Regions from separate parts of the Homo sapiens genome. Here regions 2, 3 and 4 are each reported to be linked to region 1. Evidence: microRNA targets listed by miRTarBase, many of them from high-throughput screens and not tested one by one. Region 1 holds a microRNA gene; each other region holds the end of a gene's coding sequence.

Region 1 (5,148 bases):
CTACTTTCAAAAGTGATAATGCATATTATGTTAAATATACACATGTTCTAAGAATCAGAAAGCTGAAACACTGGAAGGAAATGTTTTATTAAGTAGCTACCCAGTACATTTGCCAATAGCCAACCAGATTTACCTCACGCACACACACAAATCAACATACTAAAAGTAAGGATTTCCAAACATATTTCCACTCCAAATTTAAAGTGAAAGTTTAAATAACATATAAACCATCTGACTGGATACAATTCAGCCCTAAAGCTAGAGTTCAGGGCCCCTTATCTTTTGTTCATTATTAATTTTAAAATTTTTGATGTATTTATTAGTATTTATGAATAACATAGTAACATTCCCATAGATTTGCAGAGATCAAATCGAGGTAATTAGCATATCCATAATCTCATTTATCATTTCTTTGTGCTGGGAACATTCAACATCCTCCTCCTCTTTGAAACTGTGTAACATATTGTTGTTAATTACAGTCATCTTACAGTGCTATACAACACTAGAACTTGCTCTTCCTATCTAGCTGTAATTTTGAAACCTTTAACAAATTGCTTTCTACCATCCCTGCACCCTATGCTTCCCAGCCTGTAGTATTCTGTTCTACTTTTTACCTCTATGAGATCAACATTTTTTTAGCTTCCACAAATGAATGAGAACACACAGTACTTAATGTTCTGTCCCTGGCTTACTTCACTTAATATGATGTCCTCCAGTTCAATCCATGTGCCTCAAACTATAGGATTTCATTCTTGCTTATGGCTAAATAGTATTCCATTGTGTATGTATACCATATTTTCTTTATGCATTCATCTGTTGTTAGATACTTAGGATGATTCCATATCTTGGCTATTGTGAATAGTGCTGCAATAAACACGGGGGTGCCGATGTCTCGTCAATATACTGATTTCCTTTTCTTTGGATAAATGTCCAATAATATATTGTTGGACCATATAATAGTTCTATTTGCAGTTTTTTGAGGAACCTCCACACTGTTCTCCATAGTGGCTGTACTAGTTTACATTTCCACTAGCCACATTTAAGTGTTCACTTTTCTCCACATCTTTGCCAGCATTTGCTATTTTTTGTCTTTTTGATAGTAGCCATTCTAAGTGGGGTGAGATGACACCTCATTGTGGTTTTGATTTGCATTTCCCTGATGACTAGTGATGTTGAGCTTTTTAGGAAAACATATTTGTTGGTTATGTGTCTGTCATCTTTTAAGAAATATCTATTCAGGTCATTTGCCCATTTTTCAGTTGGGTTCTTTTTTTTTTTTTTTTTTGCTATTGAGATGTCAAGAGTTCCTTGTATATTCTGGATATTAATCCTCTGCTGGATACATACTTTGCAAATATTTTCTCCCATTCTGTAGGTTGTCTTTTCACTCTGCCAATTTCTTCCTTTGAATTAATATTAATTTTTTAAAGAAAAGTAACTTAAACGCTTGACAATATGGAATTAAAAATACAGTACCTTCAAGCTGGGTGCGGTGGTGCATGCTTATAGCTGCAGCTATCTGAAGGCTGAGGCAGAAGAGGATCGCGTAAGTCCAGAAGTTTGAGACCAGCCTGGGCAACATAACAGCAAGACTCAGTCTCTTTTTAAAAAATGGTATATTCAATTTGGGGAACATGCTACAAATCCTCAAAAAACGGGTACAGAAGAAACATACTGCAACACAATAAAAACCACATGAGAGACCCCCACAGCTAGAATCATATGGAATGGGGAAAAATGGAAAGCTTTTCCTCTAAGATCTGGAACATGATAAGGATGCCCACTGTCACCACTGTTATTTAACATAGTACTGGAAACCCTAGCTAAAGCAATCAGTGCAGCCCCTGATATGGCCCCCAACCCACCCTGCCCCCTGCCACCAGCAGTGTAGCCCCCCCGCAATAGCGCACCCAACACACCCAAACCGCCCCGCCTCCCCGAACCACGGGCATTGCAGCACCCCATAGCACCCTCAACCTGAAACCACCAACCCCCCGCAACAGCCGTGCAGTGCAGCCCTGGATAGGACACTTAGCCCACCTCACTGTTGCCAGCAATACAGTCTGGGATAGTTTCCCCAACAGGCTCCCCGCCGAGGGCAGTGCAGCCCCGGTTAGGGCCCCCAAACCACCCCCCGGTGCAGGCAGCACAGCCCCAGATAGCACACCTAACCAGCCACCCAAGGTGGGCAGTGACGCCTGAGATAGGGCCCCAAACCCGTCCCAGGCCAAGGGCAGTGCAGCCCTGGATAGCCACTTACCCCGATGCTTTTCTACACTCTGGCCGGTTGCAGTGTCCATCGCTGCCACCAACCGCAGCGGGCAAGGCAAGCCAGCGAGGCAAGGCGAGGCAAGCCGGCGAGGTGGTGAGCCAGGGAGGCCAGCCACAGCCCGGTAGGCTGCAGCCTCCAGCATGCAGTGGCTGGCACCTCCTACTCCAAGCTGGCAATGGAGCAGCTATGAAGTCAGACGCCGACGAGGCTGGACTAGTGCAACTCTATCTCTTAACATGCTTTATATACCGAGATTATAAACTACATGTTCTGAGTGGATGAGAGGAAAACACTAGGCCTACTCTGATTGGACTTTATTGTCACGTTCTGATTGGTTAGCCTAAGACTTGTTCTGATCCAATCAGAACATGAAAATAACGTCCAATCAGAGTAGGCGTAGATGTTTCTTTCATCCAATCAGAACGTGAAGTCCGAGAACCAGGCCTGCACAACCCCCAGTATATAAGCTATGCTAAGGGGGCGTCGCGCTGTTGCAGGCTATCGTGTGTTAGCCTCTACTTCTCCCGCAGAGTTTGGAGAAAGCGGCAGCAGAGTGTGCTGCCGCAGGCTGGAGCCTGGAACCTGGAGCCCTGGAGCCTTGAATGGTGTGTGGTGGCAATGGAGAGAGGCAGCTGGCAGTGACAGCTGCTCCGTGCTTGGCTACAGGAAGGAAAGAAGGAGAAGGCACCTACCATAGGCTGTAGGCTAGAGCCTGCAGGACTGCGGCTGGCCTCGCTGGCTCGCCTCCCTGGCTGGCCTCGCTGTGGTTGGTGGCAGCGACGGATACTGCAGCTGGCCAGAGTGTAGAAAGGCAATGGGGTAGGTAAGCTATCCAGGGCTGCCCGCGGCGGGGGCTGGTTGGGGTATTATTCCGGGTGTCACTACTTTGGGTGTACTAGAGTGTTATTTTGGGCGTCACTGCTTTTAGGTGTGCTATCCGGGGCTGCACTGCCCTCAGCAGCGGGTGGGGGGGGGGTTGGTGGGGGGCGGGTTGGGGTCACTATCTTGGGCTGTATTGATGGCAGCAGTAGGGCTGGTTGGGGGCGCTATTGGGTGCTGCACTGCCCGCGACAGGGGCCGGGTTGGGGCTGCTATTGTGGTTGCACTGCCGGCGGCATGGTGGTGGGAGGGCTGGTTAGGGTGCGGACTGGTGGGGGTGCTTACTGGTCGGGCTTCATTGCTGACAGCGGTGTGGGGATGCTATCTGGGGCTGCACTGCCCATGGTGGGGGCTTGTTGGGGGCGCTATGTGGGGCTGCAATGTCCATGGCAGGGGAGAGGTTAGAGGCAGTATCAGGTGCTACACTGCTGGTGGTGGGGCGGGGCAGCGGTGGGTGCGGGTAGGTGCTTGGAGGGTGCGGTTTCGGGCACTATCGGGCCAGACTGCCCATGATAGAGGGCAGGTTTGGGTGCGCTACTAGGGGATACACTCCTCACAGCAAGGGGCGGTTTGGGGGTGATACCCGGCCGGTGGCAGGCGGGGTGGTGGGGTGGGTTGTGGGCACCGTTCGGGGGCTGCACTGTGGTCAGTGGCGGTGGGGCGAGTTAGGTGCTCTATCAGCTGCTGCACTGTTTGTGGTGGGGGCTGGGTTTGGTGTGCTATCGGGGACCATATTTTTGGCAGCGGTATACAGGTTAGGGGTGCTGTCGGAGGCTGCACTGCCCATGGCGGGGTGCGGGTGGGGTGCACTATCCAGGGCATCATTCCCCCTGAGTGGGGGATAGTTGGGGGTGCTATCTGCTATGTAGGGCTGCACTGCTCGTCGTGGGGAGGGGGTTGGGGACCTTAAGGATCCATGGCTGCACTATTGACGGCATGGAGCAGGTGGCCGTGCTCTCCGGGGCATCACTGCCCGCAGCCGGGGGTTAGTTGGAGGTCCTATCCGTGGCTGCATGGCCGACGGCAGACGGTAGGATGGGGGAGTTATCTGGTGCTGCGACGTCCGAGGCAGGGATGGGTTGGGGGCGCTATTGGGTTTTACATTGCAGCGGCGAGGGGCGGTGTTGGGGGCGCTATCCCAGAGCCAACATCAGGCAGCGGATTAGGGGCGCCATCAGGGGCTGCCTTGCTGGTGGCGGCAGAGCTTGCAGCAACAGGGTCTCCAAGGAAGGAGCCTTCTTCCTCTTTCTGGATTTCAGACTCTAAAAGGCGATCTCCTCCTGCTCCTGCTAGAGCGCAGCGAGCGCACGGCGTTTCCGCAGTAATCCTGAGCACGGCAAGGACCCCTTACCCGCCGTGGTTCCCGGGGCCACGCCCTTTTCGCTCTGTGTTGCGGAGACCACCTGGCACCCCTAGGCACGCTGGACACGGAGTGGCGGGGACACCACGGGGAGACAGGGCTCTGTGGGTGGAGGCATCAGGATGGGGAACCGGCATTTGGGTGGGAGGGCTGGCTGTGTCTGAGTTCCTGCTGATTTTGTTCCCCAAGGAGCGCAGTCCTGGTGGGCCCAGCGGTTCCTGTGGATTGGAGCCAGGCAGTGTGATGTTACCAGTCACCACTCCAGGTCCCAGTTCCTGGCCCGCTTGAGCCAAAAGGAGAGGCTGGACTTTGGAGGGTGGATATGAGTGCCTTCACTGAGACTGGCCCCTGCCACCCAGTGGCCAGGATGACAAGGTGAGGCTCTAACGCTATCAGTCTCTGCATTCTCCTCTAGGCTTTTTTGGCTTTGTGTGTCCAGCTGTTCCATGCCAGGAGGAGGAGTTACATGCTGGAAGCTTGCAGATAGCCTGGGGCTGCTGCTCGCCTTGCTGCGGTTGGTGGCAGCTACCGAGACTACCTCGCACCAGAGCGGTAGGAGGACGGCCAGCTGCGGCCATGGCAGGGGCAGGGCTGCGGCGGTGGCCAGGTAGTAGGAGCTTTGTAGGGTGGGCCAGTG
Region 2 (5,148 bases), not on the chromosome of region 1:
GTAAACTGAGAGATGGGATGTTATTATTACAAATTTTCCTAAGCCAGGGTCACCCATGCTGGAGGGCCGTGGTACAATCACAGCTCACTGCAGCCTCAACCTCCCGGGCTCATCCTCCAACCTCAGCCCCACGGGTAGCTTGAGACTACAGGCGCGCACCACCATGCCCAGCTAATTTTGGGGGTTTTTGTTTGCTTGTTTTGGGAGAGACAGGGTCTCATTATGTTGCCCAGGCTGTTGAGATGGAACATTACTCACAAACATGTAAAAACTCAAACGATGGCGGGTCTGCCCATTCATGGATGGAACAGGGGGTGTCAACATGTAAAAACTCAAACAACGGTGGGTGCCTGTTCGTGGATGGAGCAGGGGGTGTCAACATGTAAAAACTCAAACAACGGCGGGCGTGCCTGTTCGTGGATGGAACAGGGGGTGTCGGGAAGGCGTCAGGGCTCCCGGTTGCTGTCAGTCGCCCGTGAGACCCGAGCAGCAGTCGCTCTGTTCTTGTGATCATGGCTGAGTGGGATCCAGTGTGAGTCTCCACCCGGCCTGTTACCCAGTTCCAGCTGCAGGGCCTGGGCGCCCTTTTCCGCCTGGGCAGCAGTGAATGAAGTTGCTCTAAGTCCCTTGCTGCTCTTGGTGCACTTAAGAGAGGGCTCGCAGGCCACAGGATAACAGGAGAGGCTGAGTGCGCGGCATCCTCCATCATGGAAACGCATCTCGCACCAGCACACGCAGCTGGCTTTTCCACTACTTTTGCCCGTCGATGGCACCACCCAGCTTTTCTCTGGGTGGGACAGGTATCTGTCCACCTGGGGTTTCTACTCTGCATGTTTTATCTTTTTTTTTTTTTTTTTCCTGAGATGGAGTTTCACTCGTCGCCCAGGCTGGAGGATAATGCCATAATCTCAGCTCACTGCAACCTCCGCCTCCCAGGTTCAAGTGATTCTCTTGCCTCAGCCTCCTGAGCAGCTGGGACTACAGGTGCCTGCCACCATGCCTGGCTAATTTTTGTATTTTGAGTAAAGACAGGGATTCACCATGTTGGCCAGGCTGGTCTTGAACTCCTGACCTCAGATGATCCGCTCGCCTCGGCCTCCCAAAGTGCTGGAATTACAGGCGTGAGCCACCGCGCCCGGCCATGTTTTATCTTTTATCCAGGTAGTCTGTGACTATCCAAACGAGGCTCTGACAGTCTACAGGGATCGTGTCAGTCTGGAGAGTTGGGTTAAAGGCAGGTTGTTCGGGGTGAGAAGGGGACGCTGAGGCAGCAGGTGGTCACAGCCTCACGTCTCAGAAGGATGCGCTGAGCAGTCCCGGGGTTTTGGGCAAGTGAGGTCCACACCCCTCTAATGAGTACCTTTAGAGGCCACTGGCCTGCAAGTTCTGATGACGGGGAACAGCCTTAGGGGCCTCTCCCTGGAGCTCCCACTCACCCCCTCGACCCCCACCCTGCTGTGTCCTGAGCTGTGGCTTGGGAGATGTTTCTGGACTGGGACCAGACCCCGCAACCTAGAGAGCCAGCTCTAGGCTGGGAATTCCTGGGCTTAATGTCCAGGCATGAAGTCAGCTCCTTGTGTGTCCTCATCTGTACAGAGAGGGAAAGGCCCATCACCGTCTCCGCGAGGACAGACTCCGAGGTGATGTGGGTCGGGCCTGCACCCTCAGTGGTTTCCCTTCTGGAGTCTGGGCCTGCTCGGCCAGTGCCCTCATTTTCTGTGGAGCTGTTCCATGTCTGGGCACAGAAGCACCTCTCTGGGAGCAGGTGGGGACGTGAGAGCCCCCTGCTGGAACTGTTCTGTCACAGGCCCCGGGAGGAGCTGGACCTGCTGCCGGAGCCCCTTGGGGCAGCGGGTGAGCCGCGGTGTGAGAGACTCGGGCCTGGAGCACCAAGGGCCCCACAGCAGGAGGGATGGGGGTGCAGCCTCCAGGGCGCTGGGGTCCTCTTGGCTGACCAGGAGCCTTACACAGGGGCTGCCTCATGGGGTTGGCGGGAGCCCCGGTGTGAGGGAGACAGCCACAGAGGCAGCCCCGAAAGCAAAGCGCGGAGCAGATGGCAGAGGATCCCACGTGGCAGAGGAGAGGGCAGCAGAGGATCCCACGTAGCAGAGGAGAGGGCGGCAGAGGGTCCCGTGTGGCAGAGGGCAGCAGAGGGTCCCACGTGGCAGAGAAGAGGGCGGCAGAGGGTCCCGCGTGGCAGAGGATCCCACGTGGCAGAGAAGAGGGCAGCAGAGGATCCCACGTGGCAGAGGAGAGGGCGGCAGAGGGTCCCGTGTGGCAGAGAGGGCGGCAGAGGGCCCTGCGTAGCAGAGGAAAGGGCAGCAGAGGGTCCCACGTGGCAGAGAAGAGGGTGGCAGAGAAGAGGGCAGCAGAGGGTCCTGCGTGGCAGAGAGGGCGGCAGAGGGTCCCGCGTGGCAGAAGAGAGGGCAGCAGAGGGTCCCGCATAGCAGAGGGCGGCAGAGGGTCCCGCGTGGCAGAGGAGAGGGCGGCAGAGGGTCCCGCGTGGCAGAGAGGGCAGCAGAGGGTCCCGCGTGGCAGAGGAGAGGGCAGCAGAGGGTCCCGTGTGGCAGAGAAGAGGGCGGCAGAGGGTCCTGCGTGGCAGAGAGGGTGGCAGAGGGTCCCGCGTGGCAGAGGAGAGGGCGGCAGAGGGTCCCGCGTGGCAGAGGAGAGGGCGGCAGAGGGTCCCGCGCGGCAGAGAAGAGGGCGGCAGAGGAGAGGGCAGCAGAGGGTCCCGCGTGGCAGAGAAGAGGGCGGCAGAGGGTCCTGCGTGGCAGAGAGGGCGGCAGAGGGTCCCGCGTGGCAGAGGAGAGGGCGGCAGAGGGTCCCGCGTGGCAGAGGAGAGGGCGGCAGAGGGTCCCGCGTGGCAGAGGAGAGGGCGGCAGAGGTTCCCGCGTGGCAGAGGAGAGGGCGGCAGAGGGTCCCGCGTGGCAGAGAAGAGGGCGGCAGAGGAGAGGGCGGCAGAGGAGAGGGCGGCAGAGGGTCCCGCATGGCAGAGGATCCCACGTGGCAGAGAAGAGGGCAGCAGAGGATCCCACGTGGCAGAGGAGAGGGCGGCAGAGGGTCCCGTGTGGCAGAGAGGGCGGCAGAGGGTCCCACGTGGCAGAGAAGAGGGCAGCAGAGGGTCCCACGTGGCAGAGAAGAGGGCGGCAGAGGGTCCCGCATAGCAGAGAAGAGGGCAGCAGAGGGTCCCGCGTGGCAGAGGAGGGCAGCAGAGGGTCCCGTGTGGCAGAGAAGAGGGCGGCAGAGGGTCCTGCGTGGCAGAGAGGGTGGCAGAGGGTCCCGCGTGGCAGAGAAGAGGGCAGCAGAGGGTCCTGCGTGGCAGAGAAGAGGGCGGCAGAGGGTCCCGCGTGGCAGAGAAGAGGGCGGCAGAGGGTCCCGCGTGGCAGAGAGGGCGGCAGAGGATCCCGCGTGGCAGAGGGCAGCCGACAGGCAGCTCTGAGAGGATACAGGGTTGGGAAGCTCAGGCAGAAGGCCATCGTAAGAGCTAAGAGCTACGTATGGAGAGTGTGGAGGTGATGAGAACTGAACGGGGGCCGCTGGGCTTAGTGACCAGGCAGCAACTGTGCCCTTGCTGAATTCCAGGCGCTAAAGAACTTGGTGAAGAGTCCGGGCCCCGCTGAGAGGGTGGCGCGTGCGCAAATGTGGAATCCTCACCCAAAGTCCTCAGCCTCAGAGCACACGAAGGTGTTTCTCCTCCCCTGTCGAGCGGGAACCGGGGGTCCAGGCTGGGACGCTGATTGGATGTGACAGCCCAGCAGACTCCATGCTCGGGGTGGAGGCTTCAAAGGACACGGCAGGCGTCAGGGACTTTTCTTTCTCTTTGAGATGGGGTCTTGCTCTGTTGCCCAGGCTGGAGTGCAGGGGCGCAATCACAGCTCATTGCAGCCTCAATGTCTGCTCAAGCAATCCTCCAGCCTCAGGCCTCTAACATGCCAAGATCACAGGTATGAGCCACTGTGCCTGGCCTAGGGACTTTTTCTTTTTCTTTTTTTTTTTTTTTTGAGACAGTCTCACTCTGTCGCCCAGGCTGGAGTGCAGGGGCACGATCTCGGCTCACTGCAAGCTCCGCCTCCCGGGTTCACGCCATTCTCCTGCCTCAGCCTCCCGAGTAGCTGGGACTACAGGCGCCCGCCACCACGCCCGGCTAAGTTTTTTGTATTTTTAGTAGAGATGGGGTTTCACCGTGTTAGCCAGGATGGTCTCGATCTCCTGACCTTGTGATCCGCCCGCCTCAGCCTCCCAAAGTGCTGGGATTACAGGTGTGAGCCACCGTGCCCGGCCGGCCTGGGGACTTTTTCTAGTGATGTACAAGCACTTGCACACATTTTATTGTACAAAATTCCCCAGTACTGCTTTAATAGTGAAAAAAACACACACACATACAAAAGAAGTTTCAACACGGCTCGTCGTTAGAATTCAAAGTCTTCTCCTGCCATGGCGAGAGCCCAGGCGAACCTCTCCCGCTGTGTTTTGCTGTAGATCTTCTCCACTGGCACCCTGAACCGCTTGCACCTGCGGGAGGCAGCATCAGCCCAGGCAAGCAGGCAACTCACCCACCTTGAAGGCCAGGTCAGGGTGCTCGGCAAGGGCGAGCGTCCTCCATGCAGCAGAGACACCAGAGCCGCCTGGTGTAGCTGGGACCTGCTCCTCTAGGCCAACCCCACCCCACGCATGCCGCCACCCTGGAGCATCAGCGAGGTGTCAAAGACAACCTGCTGTGGCCTAGGTGTCCACCGAGCAGGGCGCTCAGCCACCTCCCACTCCCTGTGGGCAGGCTGAGCTCCACAGGCCCTCCTGATGCCTCCGAGTCCCAGGCCACTGTCAGCACCCCCACTTCACCCTGTCCATCCGAACGTTCAGGGCAGGGAGAGCTGATGACACAGGACTCAGCATCATGGGTCCCTGTCACAGGGAGGGCCTGTGCTGACCCCAGGGGACACGGGACAAGGGCAATGCTGGGACTGAACAGAGGCCTCCTGGAAAACCCAGGCCCCCCATAGGCCACAGGTGGGAACTGAGACCCCAGGCACACGCACCAGGCAATGCTGATCCTGGGGTCCAGGTAGTTGAGCTTGGACGTGCCCAGGGCCACCTGCTTGTTCTCCTCCTTGTCCGTGGCCTGCACACTCAGCTGCGCCAGCTGCTCCT
Region 3 (5,148 bases), not on the chromosome of region 1:
GCAGCCTCTGAACACGACAGTCGCACACCGGGCTAGGTCTGCTTTTTATTGGCCACGCATCCAGCCGCCAGCCTCAGGGCACACACCTGGCAGGGGGCAGGCTCGGGTAGGCTGCCCTCGCTGGGTGGGCAGTGAGGGGGCAGCGGCTGCTGGGTGTCACCCTGCAGCCCCTCAGGTGGACCTGTATTGTCCCCAGGGCCTGCCCACGCTGGGCAGCTGGCACTGGGAGGGGTTTTCTGTTGATGTGATGGCCAAGTTTCAGCTGCAGGGCAGAGGCCTGGCAGTGGCAGCAAAGGCAGACCGCCCCCCACTCCAACTTCAGGGGCTGGACATGCTGGAACGGGGGCCAGACCCCATGGGAGGGGACCCTGGCCTGCCATGGCACTGCCTGCCAGCTTACCCCTGCCCAGGGCCCCCAACTCAGCCACCTCCAAGCAGTAAAGACTTGCAAAGCATTGCATTTTGATTAAACCTTGCTGGGCTGAAGGGCAGGCAGAGCTGTGGTGGACACTGGCAGGACGCAGCACCCCCCGACTGGCCCTTGGCAGGCTGCACCGGGCGCATGCGGGTGTGGGCCAGGGTTGCCTTTAGGAAGCAGGTGGGAGGCTGGCACGTGCAGGCGGTCCAGGAGGGCACCAGGCCTGGCAGGGCACTGGTGCCTGTCGGGTTCCCAGCCACAACACCCCAAGAAGGCTCCAGGAGGGCCCCGGCTGGGTAAGGCACGGAGTTTTGGTTTCCGGGGCCCAGTCCCAGCCTGGCCCCCAGAAGAGCCTCTCTTGGCAGAATGGCAGCATGTCCTGTGGCCTGGGCTCTCTCACTTGGCCTTGGGCCTGGGCCTGAGGCCTGTAAGAGAGAGAAAAAATGACATTATTAGGAGCAGTTTTGCTGGGTACAATATCAGGTGCCCGCTTCTGGGTGCCCAGGTCCCTGAACCCCTCATCGCCACTGTCCAGCAGGTTGTGCCATGCATCGCAGGTCCACTCTGACCCCAGGCTCTTTCTCTGGAGCAGCACAACTTATCTAGGTGGAAGGTGCCGGGCTGGCCTGGCCAGGCTGGGTTTTGGCAAGGCGTGGCAGCCTGAGCCTGTCTCCTCTCTGCTGAGATAGGGAATCTCTGTGGCCTGTCCCCCACCCCCTGTCTGAGACCCAGGCTGCACTCTGTCCTTACTCATTCATCCCCACTGCCACCCCCTGCAGCCCTCCATTGCTTCCACGTCGGGCCCTGGGCCCCACACGAGGACCCCAGCAGCGCTTTCTCCAGTGGGCTGCTGAGGGCGCTCAGCCCTGCCCCAACAGCTCCCGCCACCCAGACGGCCCCCACACATGGCCCCACAGGCCTCCTGCCCCCAACGCCCTCTTCGCTTTCTGGTCCAGGGGCCCTCGATGGCCCTTGTCTGAGTGTCACCCCCACTGCCACCACAGTGCCAGGTGGTGTCCCAGCTCCCCAGTGGGATGGCCCAAGCAGGGTTTGAGAACCACTACTCTAAACAGACAGCAAGAAAACAAAAACTATCCAAAACAATCACTCAAAGGAGGGTCTCAGCACCATTCCCCACTCAGGGAACCTGGAGAAATGGCCAAGACCAAGGCCCGTGCAGGGATGGGGGGATCAGCAAGTCTGGGGTGAGCTAGGAACAGGGGCTTGTGCCAAAGATGGGAAGCGCTCAGGGCCCCCGCTGGTCCCCATCAAATGCACGGCAGTGGCAGTGAAGGATTACTGCACGTTCAAAACTCACGTGATGGAAAAAGGGAGGGGAGGGGGGAACGCTCGGACGAGGGGCGGCGAACACAGAACCGCGCTGCAGCGGTTGGTTCCACAGGTCACCACCGGTGCTTATTAACCAGACAGCGTGGTGTTCGTGCAGTGGAGGTTCAGAAACCACCCCCGCAGCCGTGGTCAGCGCTGCTGCCACAAACGTCCCCACCCAGCTGGGGAGGACATGGCATCCCTTGGGGTAGAACTCCTGCCCCAAAACTCAACCTGGACCTACTTGGGGGCGCAATCAGGCAAACCCAAAGTGAAGTTATCTTCCAGAACGTCAATGTCATACAAGACAAAAAGGGGCAGGAATGTTCTAGAACAAAAGAGACTGAAGTGATATGATAACCAAACACAGCATGTGACTCTGGATACAATCTTGTTTGCAAAAACAACAAAGCAACAACTAGAGAAGGAATTATTGGGGCAAGTGGCACATCTGCACTGGGACCGAGTATTAGAAGCATGTGGACGTGAAGCGCCCCACAGCGGACCCTGCCCGGGGGGGACTGGGAGGACGGCAGCGCACCCTGCCCGGGGGGGCGGACTAGGAGGACGGCAGCGCGCCCTGCCCGGGGGGGGGACTGGGAGGACGGCAGCGCACCCTGCCCGGTGGGGGCGGACTGGGAGGACGGCAGCGCACCCTGCCCGGGGGGGACTGAGGAAGACGGCTGTGCTCTCAGGTGTCTGTGGGCGAGTTTAGGGCTCCAGTGCCATGATGTTTATAAGAAACTCTCAGATGCCTCAGTTGGAGGGGGGCAATGTAGCAAAATGGTCACAATTTTGGTATTTTTGGCAAATGGTTGTAATTTCGGGGAGAAGGTGTTGTTCATTCTGATCTATGCAGTTTCCTGTGGTGTTGAAGATTTTCTAAATAAAAAGGTGGGGGCTGGGCACGGTGGCTCACGCCTGTAATCCCAGCACTTTGGGAGGCCGAGGCGGGTGGATCACCTGAGGTCAGGAGTTCGAGACCAGCCTGACCAACATGGTGAAACCCTGTCTCTGCTAAAAATACAAAAAATTAGCCGCGCGTGGTGGCGTGTGCCTGTGGTCCCAGCTACTCGGGAGGCTGAGGCAGGAGAATCACTTGAACCTGGAAGGTGGAGGTTGCTGTGAGCTCAGATCGCACCACTGCACTCCAGCCTGGGCAACAGAGTGAGACTCCGTCTTGAAAAAAAATAAAAAATAAAAAGTTGGGGAGAGAAGAGGACTTCTTCCTCTTGCCCTCAGCCACGTGCGTGGCAGGAGCTGGGGCGGGTGGAGGCTAAGCACGTGTAGCAGGTTCAGGAGGGAACCAGGTGGAGCGTGGAGCTGGCACTGGACACGTCCATCTTTCACTGGACCATTGTCAGATGTGGCCGCCCGCCCCAGACCTGCATGCTCCACTGTTCCTCACACTCAGGGCCAGCAAGTCCAAGTTCCAGCCTCTAAGGGAGATGCCAGCACCTTTCTAAAAAGTACACGTGGGTGCTTCACACCAGAGAGCCACACTCGGAAGATGACCCTGGAAGCAAAAGCTGGAACCCAGGGTGAAGGCCGTGCCCCAACAGCGAGGACAAGCTGTCCGGAGAAGCTTCTCCGGGGTCACGACTGCTCTTGCCTCTGATGGGCACCAGCAGACCTCAGGTGTGCACCTTGAGCCTAAGCCCCAGGCCCAGCGGTCAGCATATTTGTGATGCACCGACACCGGGCTGGCTCTGAGCAAGGCTGGAGGTGCTGGAAGACGCCACGACCTGGGCTCACAGAGCTCATGATCGGCCGGGCTGGACCTTCTGGTTCTCTGCTCTAGCCCCTCCTCCACCCAGTGCAGGCTGGTCCTGTCTAGCTGGATGCATTGGCCTCTCCAGCCCTGTGGACGGACCTGGCTGATTGACCTTTGGCTGGTCGCCCCCCAGAAGACTCGGTGTGCGGGGGGTAATCTGCTTCTCCATAGACCCACCCATGGCCTCGGGGTGGGAGGACACTGTCCAACAGGAGGGGGGTTGCAGTGTACTTGTCCCTGGCAGCATCTGCCCTTGCGACTGTCCCGGTCTCCTCACAGACTTCCTGGGGACATGCCCCAGAAGGCCCCACGCCATTGACACACTTAGAGTGAAGATAGCCCTCCACCAACAGACAGAGCAGGAAAGCCACAGGGTTACTGGAACTGCAGTTAGCGCCAGGACACCAGACAGGAGCAACCTCAGCCTGTCCTGCCAGCCAGGAGGTCCCGCCCACGCCCCAGGGCCCGGATCCTGCTTGCTAAGGGAGTCCGGCTGGCCCTGCCACCTGCCCTCTCGAGGCCCGCATGCCCGGGGCCAGCACTGAGGTTGCGTCCTGCCTGCAGGAGGCACCAGTTGAGCAGGTAACCTGCGGAGAGGGAGGGGATGGGGCGGGAAGCCCACCACCAGGGCTGCGGGAGCGGCAAGGCCACACTGACGCACCACGCGGGCTGGAGAGAAGCCAGGTTAGTGTCCCGGAGGGGTGTGGGCAGCAAGCTCCAGCCCCACTGCCCTGCAGCTGCTGTTAGCCCCCACGGAGCGCCGGCTGCGTACATACCTTACTGGATCACACACAGTTTCTTTGTTTTATTATCATCAGAATCAGGGGGAACCTCTGCTTCCAAATAAAAGAAACGCACTCAACGGCTTATCACACAGAAGCAACCCTGACTCGGAGTGGGTGGGGCTGGGGGGCCCGGGACAGCCATGCCAACACCCTCTGAGGGCTGCCCGGTTCTCTGGCCACTAAGCCACATGGCAGCCACTTGCCTGGGACCTGGTGCCCGGTGTCCGCCCCCTACTCCCTAACGGAGGTGGCGTGAAGGTCGGAATTAGTAGGTTGGAGGAATAGTTGCACGGGCCGCGGCAGCCCACATAGCCGCCCTGCGGTGGACGCACTGCCGCCTCCTCTCCCGTGCCGCACCCAAGTCACCTCTCCTGGGTGCCGCTGGAACTTGCAGTGCCCAATGGGGAAGGGGAGGGACCGGCTGGGTGCCAGCGCCCTGGCGTGGGACGGTGCCCGGGGCCCCTCCCTGAGTTACCTTCCTGGCTCCTGGAGGGACGCTTCTTCCTTCGCTTCCCGGTCCCCTTTGAGGCCCGGCCCCGGGCCCTGGGGAGTGTGCCCGACCCCGAGGAGTCGGTCACCGCATCCTCGGAGAAGGACTTGTCCAGGGATGTGTCCAGTGCGGACTCTGGGGCCGTGTCCTCCTCGTCCTCGTCCTCATCCCCACCTGGGCCTGCTGCAGGGGGTCTGGCACCACGGCTGTGGACAGCGTCCTCCAGCCCCTCACTTGTGCTGTCGGCCTCGGCCTGGAGGACGCCCAGCAAGGACGTGGGATCCTTGGCATCTTGCCTTGAACTTCCGGCTGCAGGGGGCTGGTTGCTGGAGAACTTGAGGGGCTTCAGGGC
Region 4 (5,148 bases), not on the chromosome of region 1:
CATCTTGTTCTTTCCTGTCCCTTTAATAGGTAGCTAAGTATGATTTCACTTCACTAATTCAGACACAAATAATGTGAAAGATGGTATAATTCAGAGAACACCTGGGCTGTCCTTTATCTTTGCTTAGTAAACTGTTTTTTCCTTCAGGGACATGAAAGCTAACGTTAGCCTGGCACACATGATTCTGATTTCTGAATTGGTGGTGCTTGAATTAATGACATTTTTCTGAAGCAAAGGAAATTAAATAGTGCACTTTATTGTTCCACTGGCACATATTGTTACATATCCTGAGCAAACCTATTTTAGTGTATGTGTCGTGCTAAAGACTGAATACCAGCCAATGTCTGTAGCTATCTGATACGTGACTGTTTACTCCTCTATTGAATGGGGTTTATCATTTGTTTGGAGTAAGAGGATAGGCCTTGATTGAAACAATAAATATTTATGATAAAAGAAAACGAGTCCCTTTTTGACAGGGACCTAGGCTCAGGCATAAACTGACAATTAGACTCAAGTGGTGAATTAAATTAATGAATAGTTAGCCTTTATAATACAAATGCAAATAGAGCTCTAATTTCCAAGTTGGCTAGTTGTTTTTTTCTGCCTAATATTCCATTCTTTATAACTCAGTTTTAAATAATAGTTGCTTGAGGTATATTACTGTGTTGTGTCATTGTGAGTTTTATGCAGTTGGAAATTTTATAAGTTTGAGTTAATCTGTAATTTTAATAGTTTGTAAGTTTATTTTTTCTTGATTTTTGTTATTTTTCTTTAGGGATAAGAGAAGATCCTGATGTCTGCCTGAAAGCCCCATGAAGAAAAATAAAACACCTTGTACTTTATTTTCTATAATTTAAATATATGCTAAGTCTTATATATTGTAGATAATACAGTTCGGTGAGCTACAAATGCATTTCTAAAGCCATTGTAGTCCTGTAATGGAAGCATCTAGCATGTCGTCAAAGCTGAAATGGACTTTTGTACATAGTGAGGAGCTTTGAAACGAGGATTGGGAAAAAGTAATTCCGTAGGTTATTTTCAGTTATTATATTTACAAATGGGAAACAAAAGGATAATGAATACTTTATAAAGGATTAATGTCAATTCTTGCCAAATATAAATAAAAATAATCCTCAGTTTTTGTGAAAAGCTCCATTTTTAGTGAAATATTATTTTATAGCTACTAATTTTAAAATGTCTTGCTTGATTGTATGGTGGGAAGTTGGCTGGTGTCCCTTGTCTTTGCCAAGTTCTCCACTAGCTATGGTGTCATAGGCTCTTTTGGGATTTTTGAAGCTGTATACTGTGTGCTAAAACAAGCACTAAACAAAGAGTGAAGGATTTATGTTTAATTCTGAAAGCAACCTTCTTGCCTAGTGTTCTGATATTGGACAGTAAAATCCACAGACCAACCTGGAGTTGAAAATCTTATAATTTAAAATATGCTCTAAACATGTTTATCGTATTTGATGCTACAGGATTTGAAATTGTATTACAAATCCAATGAAATGAGTTTTTCTTTTCATTTACCTCTGCCCCAGTTGTTTCTACTACATGGAAGACCTCATTTTGAAGGGAAATTTCAGCAGCTGCAGCTCATGAGTAACTGATTTGTAACAAGCCTCCTTTTAAAGTAACCCTACAAAACCACTGGAAAGTTTATGGTTGTATTATTTTTTAAAAAAATTCCAAGTGATTGAAACCTACACGAGATACAGAATTTTATGCGGCATTTTCTTCTCACATTTATATTTTTGTGATTTTGTGATTGATTATATGTCACTTTGCTACAGGGCTCACAGAATTCATTCACTCAACAAACATAATAGGGCGCTGAGGGCATAGAAGTAAAAACACCTGGTCCCTGCTCTCAGTTCACTGTCTTGTTGGACGAGAAAACAATAACGATAAAAGACAGTGAAAGAAAATAACGATAAAAGACAGTGAAAGAAAATAACAATAAAAGACAAGGAAAAAATAACAATGAAAGTTGATAAGTACATGATAAGCGAGGTTCCCCGTGTGTAGGTAGATCTGGTCTTTAGAGGCAGATAGATAGGTCAGTGCAAATACTCTGGTCCATGGGCCATATGAAAAGGCTAAGCTTCACTGTAAAATAATAACTGGGAATTCTGGATTGTGTATGGGTGTTGGTGAACTTGGTTTTAATTAGTGAACTGCTGAGAGACAGAGCTATTCTCCATGTACTGGCAAGACCTGATTTCTGAGCATTTAATATGGATGCCGTGGGAGTACAAAAGTGGAGTGTGGCCTGAGTAATGCATTATGGGTGGTTTACCATTTCTTGAGGTAAAAGCATCACATGAACTTGTAAAGGAATTTAAAAATCCTACTTTCATAATAAGTTGCATAGGTTTAATAATTTTTAATTATATGGCTTGAGTTTAAATTGTAATAGGCGTAACTAATTTTAACTCTATAATGTGTTCATTCTGGAATAATCCTAAACATATGAATTATGTTTGCATGTTCACTTCCAAGAGCCTTTTTTTGAAAAAAAGCTTTTTTTGAATCATCAAGTCTTTCACATTTAAATAAAGTGTTTGAAAGCTTTATTTACCTAATTTGTCTTGAAATATTCCTTATAATTCCTTATAAAATATTCAGAGACTGATGCTATTAATAAACCAAATAAAGGATTGATGATTATCTTATCGGAGTGATTCCCTGGAAAAGGTAAGTGCTTTTCTGATTTTATTGCTGTCCAAGTTCCCGGTTGATGAGCCTACTTCCTGTCTTCTTTGGCTGGCCTTTTATTCATCAAGTTTTTTTTTTTTTTTTTCACCTTTTCTTTCCCAACATGAGCATCCTTGCTATTTTCCAGTACGTAATCACTTGCACCTTTACAGAAAGGTCATATCCTTGCTGTATCTAAAATATTGCCATGCTAACATATTGTAAGATGCTGAGTCAAGGTAGAAAAATGCACAATATATTTCCAAGTGTGCAGCTCTCTTCAGAAAAAAAAAAAGTGTGTCAGCAAGCCCAAAAGGAACATGACAGCTTATCAAATACTTATTCATTTCCTCTGAAATTTGTTCTTAAGAGATAAGGTCAGTAGGGAGACAAGCTTAGGTAATTGTCTGTTTGGCTGTTACAGGCAGGGAACCTTTGTGGTAGTGCACAGGTAGAATAAGTCTATAGAGAATGCCTCTGATTAAGTCCTCTGCTATAAATAAAGGGCTGGATTTAAGATATTCTTTCGGGTAGAATGGACACAGAATTAAAAATGTGAGAAACAGCTTTAAACTCTGTTAATAATGTTTCAACATCAGCTTATGTTTTATTTGATTCACTTCGTTAAGCTTAGAATCCAAAGTCTACTACTAGTAAAACCCAGATTTGCCCTTGAGCATTTCAAGGTTATAGGATGCCTGGTCTTCCTGTTAGGATGCTATACATTCAACTTTGACACCTATGTTTTCTCTTGCAGTAAATGGGATACCACTATTTTGTAGTTTGCAACTAGGGGGGAAGTTAAACTACCCAGTTTGGACATTTTCCTAATTTGGGGTGATTGGCCAAACTTGTAGTAAAAGGCTGAATTCTTATCATTAGGTCATTTAGTTCTTAAATGAAGATTTTTTTTTTAATGTAGCAAGATATAATAAGGCTGACTAACTGGATAGAGTCCATTAACATATATGGAATTGAGATATATATATACATCTTGGTTGCACACATACACGCAGAAATAGAACTGTTTTCTCACAAGATGACAAAAGGCTATACTACGTATCACATTCAGTATTGGACAGAGAGAGTAAAAGCAGGAATGCATAAGAACTGATTTTTTTTTCTTTTTCTTTTTTTAGTCACCTGGTGGGCCATTTAAACATTTTATTTATTTATTTTTTAATTTTTATTTTACTTTAAGTTCTGGGATGCATGCGCTGAATGTGCAGATTTGTTACATAGGTTACATGTGCCATGGTGGTTTGCTGCACCATCAACCCGTCATCTAAGTTTTAAGCTCTGCACGCATTAGGTATTTGTCCCAATGCTCTCCCTCCCCTTGCCGCCCACCGCCTGACAGGCCCCAGTGTGTGATGTTCCCCTCCCTGTGTCTATGTGTTCTCATTGTTCAACTCCCACTGTTTTTCATCTTTGTCACTGATTATCCACGTGACCTTAGGTAAGTCAGTCTGTTACTGTTACTGCATTTGCCAAGTAGGAATAATTAAGTCGTACTAACCTCACAAGATTATTAAGGTACAATAATTTACATATATGTGTGTGCGTAATTACATATATGTATAACTTTAAGGTAGTAATATTACTGAATGTTTAAATAACATTGACTGATAGTCACAGATCTCTAAAAGGGAGGGTGAATAGGGAAGGAATATACAAACGTCTCCTATTATAATTCTCTCTCTATAGGAGCTCCTGCCCTTTTAAAAAATACCCTGAGTGTGAGGTGGGATGCATATTTTGAAAAAAATTTCCAGATGATTGATACTAACAACCCCCTACCCCCATTGTTTTTTACTGATGGGTTGTGTTGAGATGATCAAGGTTGTCTTCTGCTCCATGAGTCTTTTCACTCTCTCTCTCTCTCTCTCTCTCTCTCTCTCTCTCTATATATATATATATATATATATATACACACACACACACACACAGACACACACACACACACACACACACATAAAAAAGCAGCAGGGCATTTTGAAGTGGTGTAAATTGCAGGATTCCAAGTTTCAGTAATGGGTTGTTTGGACTACATGTGCTCCGCGAGTATCAAGATGAATTTTTGAAGATCTGTTGGCCAGATTTCCCAGCGTCACTTGTAAATGTCTTCTTGTGAAAAACAAGTGCCAAATGGCAATTGTAATTGCATAGGATTTTTTTAGTGTTTCATGATTGCCTCCCCTCCCTGACACCCTTCCCCACTGGCTGCTGCCCCAACATCCATTATTTTTTGCCAGTGCATTTGGACACCCTGAACTCCTATATATCTCTCCCACCCCGTTTTTATAATTTTTTATTTTCTTTCTATTGCTGAGAAAGGCACCAAAAGGAGAGGGAAGCCTTTTTAAAGGAAGTCACAGCCTAGAGGCATTTAAATTTGCAGCAGCTACTCTTCTTTGTTTATTAAATGGTCACTTGTGTCAGAGATCCTAT

Evidence for each region. The annotated mature microRNA hsa-miR-5701 reads UUAUUGUCACGUUCUGAUU and lies in region 1 at 2,587-2,605, shown strand. An mRNA with a match to its seed (bases 2 to 7 or 8) in the 3' UTR can be bound and repressed. Matches are read on the target gene's strand: a 7mer-m8 pairs with bases 2 to 8, a 7mer-A1 pairs with bases 2 to 7 and ends in A, and an 8mer does both.
Region 2: the mRNA of TOP1MT is a reported target of hsa-miR-5701. Seed matches in the 3' UTR shown: 7mer-A1 at 4,327-4,333.
Region 3: the mRNA of INF2 is a reported target of hsa-miR-5701. Seed matches in the 3' UTR shown: 7mer-m8 at 185-191.
Region 4: miRTarBase lists SH2D1A as a target of hsa-miR-5701. Seed matches in the 3' UTR shown: 7mer-A1 at 1,899-1,905 and 7mer-A1 at 1,957-1,963.

The regions. Positions count from the first base shown.
Region 1 is chr15:21,511,382-21,516,529 of GRCh38, forward strand. It overlaps MIR5701-2 (microRNA 5701-2), which reads left to right and starts at 2,578; the gene lies at 2,578-2,659.
Region 2 is chr8:143,305,032-143,310,179 of GRCh38, forward strand. TOP1MT (DNA topoisomerase I mitochondrial) reads right to left here. Exons shown (of 14, transcript NM_052963.3): 13 at 5,037-5,148; 14 at 4,293-4,512. The coding sequence ends at 4,410. Among named protein-coding and RNA genes, the nearest start is that of ZNF696, 16 kb to the left of the region's middle. RefSeq lists enhancers at 2,275-2,775, 2,776-3,276.
Region 3 is chr14:104,714,490-104,719,637 of GRCh38, reverse strand. It overlaps INF2 (inverted formin 2), which reads right to left. Exons shown (of 23, transcript NM_022489.4): 21 at 4,782-5,148; 22 at 4,298-4,354; 23 at 1-843. The coding sequence ends at 4,299. Among named protein-coding and RNA genes, the nearest start is that of ADSS1, 7.2 kb to the left of the region's middle. RefSeq lists an enhancer at 4,023-4,962.
Region 4 is chrX:124,370,576-124,375,723 of GRCh38, forward strand. SH2D1A (SH2 domain containing 1A) reads left to right here. Exons shown (of 4, transcript NM_002351.5): 4 at 776-2,585. The coding sequence ends at 816. Among named protein-coding and RNA genes, the nearest start is that of SH2D1A, 27 kb to the left of the region's middle.